Linked DNA regions of Homo sapiens: regions 1 and 2 are each reported to be linked to region 3. The links are microRNA targets in miRTarBase. Many come from high-throughput screens and were not tested one by one. Region 3 holds a microRNA gene; each other region holds the end of a gene's coding sequence.

What was found. Region 3 holds the annotated microRNA hsa-miR-4529-3p (AUUGGACUGCUGAUGGCCCGU, at 1,450-1,470, shown strand). A microRNA usually pairs through its seed, bases 2 to 8, with sites in the 3' UTR of a target mRNA and lowers its output. Matches are read on the target gene's strand: a 7mer-m8 pairs with bases 2 to 8, a 7mer-A1 pairs with bases 2 to 7 and ends in A, and an 8mer does both.
Region 1: the mRNA of SPANXN1 is a reported target of hsa-miR-4529-3p. Seed matches in the 3' UTR shown: 7mer-m8 at 323-329.
Region 2: miRTarBase lists CACNA2D3 as a target of hsa-miR-4529-3p. Seed matches in the 3' UTR shown: 7mer-m8 at 3,180-3,186.

What each region holds. Positions count from the first base shown.
Region 1 is chrX:145,255,510-145,259,241 of GRCh38, forward strand. It overlaps SPANXN1 (SPANX family member N1), which reads left to right. Exons shown (of 2, transcript NM_001009614.3): 2 at 162-699. The coding sequence ends at 305. Among named protein-coding and RNA genes, the nearest start is that of SPANXN1, 9.9 kb to the left of the region's middle.
Region 2 is chr3:55,073,765-55,077,496 of GRCh38, reverse strand. CACNA2D3 (calcium voltage-gated channel auxiliary subunit alpha2delta 3) reads right to left here. Exons shown (of 38, transcript NM_018398.3): 37 at 3,638-3,720; 38 at 2,940-3,383. The coding sequence ends at 3,291. Among named protein-coding and RNA genes, the nearest start is that of LINC02017, 100 kb to the left of the region's middle.
Region 3 is chr18:55,477,821-55,480,820 of GRCh38, forward strand. MIR4529 (microRNA 4529) reads left to right here and starts at 1,401; the gene lies at 1,401-1,478. The region is part of intron 3 of TCF4 (transcription factor 4); the gene reads right to left. The region is part of intron 1 of TCF4-AS1 (TCF4 antisense RNA 1); the gene reads left to right.

The DNA.
Region 1 (3,732 bases), not on the chromosome of region 3:
CTTCCCCATAGATCCCTACCCTATGATTCAACCTTGTTCTTCTCTGGCACACACCCCTTCCTCCACCTGCATTCCTTCTCATAAAGCCCCCCTTGCTATCCAGTCTCTATCCTATTCACCCAAAATAATGTCTTTCTGGCCTCTCCCTGTTTTCTTAACAGATGCAGGAGACACCAAACAGGGACTTAGCCCCCGAACCGAGTTTGAAAAAGATGAAAACGTCAGAATATTCAACAGTATTAGCGTTTTGCTACAGGAAAGCTAAGAAAATACATTCAAATCAACTGGAGAATGACCAGTCCTGAGAGAACTCCATCAATCCAGTCCAAGAGGAGGAGGACGAAGGCCTAGACTCAGCTGAAGGATCTTCAAAGCAGGATGAAGACCTAGACTTACCTGAAGGCCTAGACTCAGCTGAAGGATCTTCAAAGCAGGATGAAGACCTAGACTTACCTGAAGGATCTTCAAAGCAGAATGAAGACCTAGGCTTACCTGAAGGATCTTCAAAGCAGGATGAAGACCTAGACTTACCTGAAGGATCTTCACAGGAGGATAAAGACGTAGAATTACCTGAAGGATCTTCACAGGAGGATGAAGACCTAGAGAAAAAGCGATCATCTAGGTCAAGAAATGAAATCGAAATTTCAGAAATTACAGAAATTCTCCAAGGAAGGAGCCAGATAAATAAATATTCTGATTTCATTTTCCTCCTTCTCCAGTGATCTGCAGGGACCTACCATTCACTAAAACTAACCCGAAGCCATAGAACAAGACAGCTTATTAATACAGTCCATGGTTTATATGAGTAGATTTTTAGCAGCACAAAGTAGAGTGGAGAATGGATCTGGTGAAGCAAATGGACGATATATTGAGAACACTGAACTCAGAGAAGCAAAAGCCTCAGGAGAGATCATACTGTCTTTCTTCAACTCTCTGATATGGTGTCATGTGGAATCAGGCCAGACTTACACTTTTTGAGTGCCATACCTATGATTAGTAGGACCACAGTAGGGAACTTAGGGGAAAGTGGCATAAACTCCCTTAGGCAGTTGATGTGGATGAGTTTGTCCTGGAAAAGCTGTTTACAAAATGATCAACTGTAATTTTGCTCTTTTGGAGCTTGGAAAACAGTACCCCAAAATGAAGACCTCAGGAGCAAAAGTCTTTCTCTAATCTTCTCCTACCCTCCTGTCTCTCAGTCTCATTCTCCCCCAAGGCTAGCTATAGAAACTAGAATCCTTCTTCCCCAAGGTGTGTCATAGAAACTAAACCATATTTTCCCCAAAGCCAGCAATAAAACCTAAAAATATGGCCAGGCGCGTTGGCTCACGCCTGTAATCCCAGAACTTTGGGAGGCCGAGGTGGGTGGATCACGAGGTCAGGAGATTGAGACCATCCTGGCTAACGTGGTGAAACCCCGTCTCTACTAAAAATACAAAAAAAAAAAAAAAATTAGCCGGGCGTGGTGGCACGCACCTGTAGTCCCAGCTACTCAGGAGACTGAGGTAGGAGAATGGCGTGAACCCAGGAGGCGGAGCTTGCAGTGAGCCCAGATCACACCAGTGCACTCCAGCCTGGGTGACAGAGCAAGACTCCATCTTAAAAAAAAAAAAAAAAAAAAAAAAAAGCTAAAAATATTACTCTCATTTTCACTCCGCTTTTCCGTGTAAAAACTAGCCATAAAGAAACTGACTGTAGGTCAGAAGGCCCCCATTTCAGAGGGGTCCCTGCCCCACACCCAGAAGGAAGAATGCTGCTCAAAGAAGCCAAGAATAATCTAGACATACAGGCCTTTCTGTGTTTCCCCACTCAGTTCATTAGTATTAGTTTATACCCTTTTTGTCCAATCCTATTTCTGAGCCTCTATCCATACTTCCTTAAACCTAGGCATAAAATGCACAATTTCCCCTGTATCTTTGGGTCTTCATTCTGAAGGCTCCCAAATACACCCCTTAAACAAATCTCTATACCTCTTCTGCTATCAATCTGGCTTTTGTTGGTGATATCTAGTGAGCTCTCAGAGGGCCTTGCCCGCTACAGCTCTTTCCTGTGGGTGTGAATATCTCACCATGCCTGTTACTCTCTACATCAAAATGTCTAACACTTGCTACCATATTTCCCTGGTGTAAAGGAGAAGGTTGTTGGGTTTTTTAAGCTTGATGTCATTTGAAAAATAAGAGTTATGTTATATAAAAACTTGAACAGTGGCAAGGATGTGTGGTAGCTTGACTGCTAATTTCCTGAAAGTTCAGATTTGAACTTGTTTGCTGTGGTATCATCTGGAAATAGCATGGAGCCTGACACACAACAGGCAATTAGTAAATACTTGCTGAATGATGGCACAAGCATGGACAGTGAAGTGTAGCATGGTGATGAGAAAAAAACACTGATAGTGACTCATATTATATAAGGTTCTAGCCCCAGCTGTGGTTATAACTAAAAATATAATCTTGAGCTAGTTAAAGAAACACCCTTTAAATGTGATGTCCAAGTACCTAATTCCATTAATTTAGATGTAATTGCTAAATGTTTGGGTCTATGTAGCACATTAATCTAAGTGCAAAAACATCCAAAATATCCAAGATAATGGAATAAGTCTCTCTAGTTGAAAGTTTAATACAATGCTGAGGCTGATATCTACTCAAAAAAGTTGAGGATGTTATTTACTCAAAAAAATTTCTAGGCATAGATAGTAGATATAATGATCTTAATTATATTATTATTTTCATTTTACACAACCTTAATTTTTTTCTCGAGTTTTATTTTAGCTACGGGGGTACAAGTGCTGGTTTGTTACATGAATATATTGCACTCAGATAGTGATTCTAGTACCCAATAGGTAGTTTTTTCACCCGTGCCCTCCTCCCTCCCTCCCCCATCTAGTAGTTTCCAGTGTCTATTGTTTCTACATTTATGTCCATTTGTGCTATTTAATCCCTGCTTGTAAATGAGAACATCTGGTATTTGGTTTTCTGTTACTACATTAATTCACTTAGGATTATGGCCTCCAACTCCATCCATGTTGTTGCAAAGGACATAATTCCATTGTTTTTTATGGCTGCATATAATTCCGTGGTGTATATGTACCGCATTTTATTTATGCAATCTACCTATTTATGGGCACCCAGGTTGATCCCATGCATTTGCTATTGTGAATAGTGTGGTGGTGAGCACACGAGTGCATGTGTCTTTTGATATAATGATCTATTTTCCTTTGAGTATATACCCAGTAATGGGATTACTGGGTCAAATGGTAGCTCTATTTTAAGTTCTTTGAGAAACAGCCTAATTTTTAAAAGACCTCAAAAGATAAATTTACTTTAGTAAACTTTAAATCAATGTACATTTTGGCCAGGCGCAGTGGCTAACGCCTGTAATTCCAGCACTTTGGGAGGCTGGGGTGGGCAGATTACTTGAGGTCAGGAGTTTGAGACCAGCCTGGGCAACATGGCGAAACCCCATCTCTACCTAAAATACAAAAATAATAGCCGGGCATGGTAGTGTGTGCCTGTGGTCTCCACTACTCAGGATGATGAGGCAGGAGAATTGAGTCGAAAGGGAGGAGGTTGCAGTGAGCCAAGAGTGAGCCACTGCACTCCAGCCTGGGTAACAGAGTGAGACCTTGTCTCAAAAAATAAATAAATAAATAAACAAATAAAATAATGCACATTTAAATGAAGAATATATCTTTGCCTTGAAATGCTTCACTAAATGTGAATAACACTACTAATA
Region 2 (3,732 bases), not on the chromosome of region 3:
GTGCTAGCTTTGTCACTGTTATTGGTGGTTTTAGTTGTATTATAGGCCAGGCACTGTTCTGGGAGCTGGAGATGAAGTCACGAACGATAGAGGAGTCCTTGACCTATGGAGCTGGAATACAGTAGGTGAAACTGAAAATAAAATGATTCCAGATACTGATGTAAAGGAAAAGTAAAACCAGAGGAGTGGGGCTAGGGGAGAAGAGCAGCTGTACCAGGGGTCTCTGAGGAAGGAATTTTTGAAGGGAGCGTGGATGTTGGGAAGGAGCAGCCACATGAAGACCAGGGTCCAGAGCCCTCCAGGCAGAAGGCACATGAAAAACAAAAGCCCTGAGTGGGCACCATGCCTGGCATTTTCAAAGGCTTGGAGGCAGAGCCATGGAGCACAGCGGGTCTGGGGCAGAGCAGCACAGGATGGTGTGGGAAAGGGAGGCAGAGTCTAGCCGAGTCCCTGTAGGTCCCACAGCTCAGCGGATGCCAACCTGGCTTCATATTAACATCACCTGGGGAGTTTTAACAAAAACTAAAATGCCTGGGTTCTGCCCCAGAGTTTTCGTTTGTTTGAGATGGAGTCTCGCTCTGTCGCCCAGGCTGGAGTGCAGTGGCGCGATCTTGGCTCACTGCAACCTCCTCCTCCCGGGTTCAAGCGATTCTCCTGCCTCAGCCTTCCGAGTAGCTGGGATTACAGGCACCTGCCACCATGCCCGGCTAATTTTTGTATTTTTAGTAGAGACAGGGTTTCATCACGTTGGCCAGGCTAGTCTCCAACTCCTGATCTCAGGTGATCCGCCCACCTTAGCCTCCCAAAGTGCTGGGATTACAGGCATAAGCCACCATGGCCGGCCTGCCCCAGAGATTTTTTGAAAGGTCCCTGAGTGATTCGAACACACAGAAGACTCAGAGAACCCCTGCTGTGGACTACAGTAAGGGATGTGTATGTTGTTTTAATTGTACTGGGCAAGGCTAGGATCAGATATTTGTTTCCGAAAAACTGCTCTGGTTGTTGTGTGGAGAACGGACTGTGGAGTGGGACTGGGTGGTCGCTGACAGTGGAAGAGAGGAGACTAATGAGGACATAGGTCTTCAGAGACCAGGGACGGGGGTGGTGACTGGGAAGAGGATGGCAGCAGTGAGGGGCTGGGAAAAGTGATGGTCAGGTTTGGTGTTTGAAGGGCACAGCTCGTGAGACTTGCTGCAAGGTGGGTTGCGGGGGAAAGAGCAAATTGGGTGGCCCCAAGGTTTGGGGTTGGAGTTGCGTCAGTGGGAAGAAAAAAGTTTAATGGAGGGGGATCGTGAGTTGTGCTTAGGACACATTAAGTTGGAGAAAATTATTCAATTTCAAAGTAGACAAACAAACAGGGTCCAGTTGCTTGAAGCTGTTGTGAGAACAGCGAATCAGAGGTGCCTGGTGGGTCAGTTACATGAATGTAATCGTGACAAGGGCATGAGGTGCAGTGTGACTCAAGGATGCTATATTTATGCCATAAACAGTTTAACAAAAATGACTCCATCGTTTAGAATGAGACTGGGAGTGGAATTATACGTAATTATATTACATGTATTTTGCATCATTTGCATTAAATTATGGGCATTATAACATAATATGCTTGACTTATTGTTGCCAGTTTTTAAGAACTGTAATGGAGAATCATAGGTTATGTGATGTTATTTTTGTTAAAAATTAATTAAAATATGATTTCTCTCTTATAAATCATCTAACTTGCTCTCTTTTAAAATCACCTAAATAATTTTCCTATAAATCACCTAGATCTGTGATAAATTCATCTCTCTCAGTATTAAGCTCAATTTTCCTCTGGTCATCACCTTAGGTATAAATAGAATGTCTTTATACTTGTAAATAGAATGTCTTTATACTTGTAACTTTATGGGTTTAGAGTCTTATCATCAATCATTCCAGCTTAATAAATTGTGGCTCCTTATCTGATATCAATGTGTCAGTGTAAATGTAATATATCTATCTTTATATTTGTATGAGCAACAAATGAATTTATTCATTTACCAAGTGCACAGAGTGAGTAACATCAATTGTCACAATTCTATAGCTCCATGGCTGTTGAAAGTTTGGCAAGTTTGCCTGTTACAGTATTGTGATGTTGAGAACAAACAAACAGCACTGGAGGCATAGTAATTTAATTTTAAAAGTTATAACAACAAACAACAAACAATGTAGTGGAATCATTTTAGTATAAAGCAGTACAGTGACATCAGTTTTTCTAAAATATCAAGAGGATAATGTGCCCCTTTTTAAAAGAGTTTAAGTAAGTAAGTAGGATTCTCTGGATAACTTTTAGATGTCGTCTGTCCTATAAAGTAAGGCATTCTCTACTCTGCCTAGGCATGGAAATTATTTCACTTTATTTAGTAACCATGATCCAGTGAAATCTGTTTTCTTTGGGTCAAGAGCCAGCGTTTAGAAATGCTTGCTTACATGTCTGGGTAGTTTCATCTCATCATACTTGAGATCTAATTTCATATCTTGTTTATGGGGAAAGCCAGAAGCCAAATTTGTAATCATTGTTCTTTTCCTCCTTCAAGTCTCCTCAGACCGAATTCCTAGGATTTATGACTTCTTTATTTCTATTCCCAAATAATTCACCACTTGAATATGATGAAAGCTTGTGTTTGCATCCAAATTATGATTTTCATTGAAGTTTAGTTCAACAAAATTCACGGTTCTATGTAATAAACTCTTCCCATGTAGATGATATTTTGATATACTTCTATAAATATTTTTATAACTGAGAGTGAGTGAAGCATCTAAAAACAGTTGTTAAATATGTGCCTAGAATCTGCTTTAGAACAAAGGCTCTGCCAACAGCCATCATTTCCTGGTTTCTGGAATGGGGACCTTTTCCCCCATGCATTGTTTTCAGTTGGTGTTCTTAGCAATAAAGTGATGATAAAATCCAAACACGGAGATTATGATTTTAATATACTTTATTTAAAAAGTACACAGTTTTAAATTGGTTTCAATAGGTTTCAAGCAGAAGGGACACTGCCTACCACTTGCGGTCCCATTTCTGATGAAGGGTGATTATCATGTGGCAAACTCACATTTGCATGACTGGCAAAGTAAAAAGATGATAGATAACTTTTTGTCAACATATCTTTAAGAGTTTATATCACGCACAGTTTAAAATCATGATGAGATGCTGATGGTTGGACTATATTCATGTCTCGTATGTTGCACCATATTTTGGTTCACAGTTTATCCATGATTTAGCATGCCAAGAGAACATCTCAGTCAGTAAGAGAACATCTCAGTCAGTGTCACCTTGAGAAGAGCATCAAAAGCAGAGGGAGCAGAAGGAGGACTGTCTGGGCTTGGAGACTCGGCGCACCCCCACACTCCCTTGCATTCTCCTATGGGGAAAGGCAGGGGTTGGTTAGACGGAAATAGACTCCAGGACACCTTCAACTTTCCCCAGACCTCTCTCCCCCTCTCTAACGTAAGAACGAAGTCTTCTGGGACCTAGATGATGGTGCAGATTCAGTTTACTGAATGAAAGGGATTATTTTCTCATGAGTGAACTTTTCAGCTGTAGTTCTTTGACCAGTGTGAGACTCTCGTGGTGATTCTGATGGGAAAAGGAAACAGGAACAGTTCTCAGACTTACCTCAGGATGGAAGCCATGACAAGATTCTGGGCGCCTTCTGATCTTCTGGGCCTTTAGACGTTCACACTTAAGGGATTCATTATGTTGACTGTAGT
Region 3 (3,000 bases):
CTTAGGTTTAATCACATCAAATTCCTGGGAATAGGCATTTTTGGTTCTAGTAGGTCTGCAACTTGGATGCATCCTGCCTTTTGCCCATCTGATAACTAGTGGAATACCGGTCAGAAAGAGATGAGCTGCTCTGAGGTACTGGTCTTACCAATTCAGTAAGTGGAATGGTAAAAAGCTGTAACTCTTCCTCAGGAATGGAAGATATGTCATTAGTGTGAAAGGAGATAGAGGCAAAGACCTGAAGAATGACGATAACCAGACATCTTGAGAGAAAACAAGAAGCAGGGAAGGGGTTCCGGGAAAGCCGGAGCTGTCAGTAGAGAATAATGATTTATCTGATGAGATTAGCAGACAGTTTGATTAGAAAAGATGCCTTTTTAACACAGCAAAGATTGCAATGTTACTTTAAGATTTGTTGTAGGAAAAAGCCGTGCCTGCCAAATGTGGTCTGTAACAGCACAGGCTAGCCATGAGTGATACAGTGGGAAAATAGCCACTAAGCCAGATTTTATTTGATTTGTACTGATGATTTTTATTAGAATACATGGATCATTGCTTCAACCTTTCCATGTAAAACCAAATCAAATTCAAAAACTCACACATCAGTCACCTAACCTTATGTCATTCCTTCTGCTTTACTCAAGTTGAGCCACATTTCAGCTGATCTGTCCCCGATAAATTGTTCAGCTACTCAAAACTGTTGGGCCAAATTCTGGGAGGCAAGTGGTACACAAAAGAAACCGCGAAATCTGCAGTTACAAGTAAGAAACCTACAGAAAAGAAATACTGCAAGCTTCCGAAATGCAGAATGAATTCAAAACAATATACAGCCATGCAAAACAAGACAAAATGAATTATCCTTATTGTACCAAATGAGTTGTAATTTGTTTGTAAAAGGCCCCCACTTCCCCCAGCTTTTTTTACTTAAGCCCTTTTCAATTCAAGACACTGTAAAGAATTTTGCAACCAGAGAAAGTCCACAGTTCTGTGGCATAAGGAGATTTAAACTGCAACAAACAGTTTTAAAATTAAAAATGTTCAAACTTTAAGGTGAAAATTATAAATGTTAAATATTATATTGGTGGGAAATCTCTGTATTATTTAGAAGAATTGTTTCATTAAAAGGAATGAAGTTTAATTACATGAAATATGGCAATGGGTTTCCAAAGAAAAAGTGCCAATAATCTACTTCCCACCATTTCTTTACCTTTTTTGTTTTTGCATTAACATTTTCCCTTTCTTCCTCAAACATTGCAAGTTTCATTTTAAACCTGTAACCAATACTTATGTCCATTTCTAGTTAACAAATCAGTTCCATCTTCTGATTTCCTTTAGTGTCCCAAACCACTCTGAAATGCAAGTTATTATTTTCTCCTCAGAGAAGGTAAATAACTTCCCCAATGACAGGCCATCAGCAGTCCAATGAAGACATGAAGACCCAATGTCTTCATTGGACTGCTGATGGCCCGTCACTGGGAAAGTTATTTATATGTGGCTCATGCTCAACCTCTGGAAGACACTGGATTTTATCAAATACCCAATACCTCTGAAAACTAGTGGTCACCAAACTTGCAGGCCTCTGGTGTAACCCTCTGTGGCTAAAGCCAGGCTATGTTTTCACCAATCCCCATCTCTTTCTGCCCGTGACCACCTAGGAATCTGAAATTCCCCATCTTCCTTTGCAGTCATGGGATCATATGACTAGGATTTGGCCAATAAAATGTGAGCAGAAGTAATACTTGCCTTGTCCAGACCTGGCCCTTAAAATTTCCCATGTAATCGTCTATGCACCACTCTCCTTTTCCTCTTTGATCAGCCTGATGCCAATATCTAGTGAACTCCAAGGTCCTAGGGGATAGCAGACCTGAGCCATGGAAGAAGCCAGGCTAGGACCAGAGCCCACCCACGTTGCTCTGTGACACCGGAGGGTAATAACCCTCTGCAGTGTTAAGCTACTGAAGTTTGGGGATTGTTTGTTCCAGCAATTAGCATACCCTGACTAATGCATCTTCCAAAACAGACTTCCGTGAATTCTGGCACTATGATTCTATCTTCCAAGTAAAGCAAACATACGCAGTTAGAGCTGGCACCAGTCAGAATTCTGAAGCAGGGGAAACTGGTCTTTGAACTATCCTTCTTTCCCTTTCAGACTTGTTTTCCCCTCTTAGCATTTCCTCCCTCTGAGCACCAAATGTTCTCAGGCTGCTCAGTCTCGTCTGTCTCAAGAAAATAGACACAAGATATTCATTATCCATTCTTTCTCTTAACCATTACCTTTTGAATACCATGAGCTGCCTGCTACCTGGGAAATTCTGAAGAACATCTTTAACATCTCACATTGAATGTATCCTCATCTGTAAAATGGGAATGACCGTATTTACCCTCCAGTACTGTTGTGATGATTACAGATAACAAGGAAAATGTTACCATGGAACCTGGAACACAGTAGGAACTCCAAAAAAAAAAAAAAAAAAAAGCGGGGGGGCGGGGGGAGGATATTATGTGTATTACACTTACTGTTATGGTCATAGCATGATATTTGACACCAAAAGGATACAAAATGTACATAAAATAGGACGCTTTCTCTCTGAAATATATAATCTAGATTGGGAAGAAAATCTTACGAAAATAAAATACAGTATTTGGTTACTAAAACAAACATAGCAGAATTTTTGAGAAAGGTGAGTTATATGGGCTAGAATCAACACTTGCAAGGTACTGGTGATTTAGGACAGAGTGATACTAAATTTCAAAGGGGCCTAACAGAAAGGTTCATGATTAACCTAAGGGAATAAACTGCTACACCTCAACATTTTTCATGTCACCTTGTGTAAGGCGTGGCCCTGTTCCCGGTCTCTTTATTGATTCAGTTATTAATTCTGTGTCAACCCTAATACAGATGTCACTAAAATCAAACAAACCCTAGTATCACAGTGGTGGGGGACAAGGATTGATTTTACTTTGTACAAAATCTGGCATAGGCCAGGCGTGGTGGCTTAT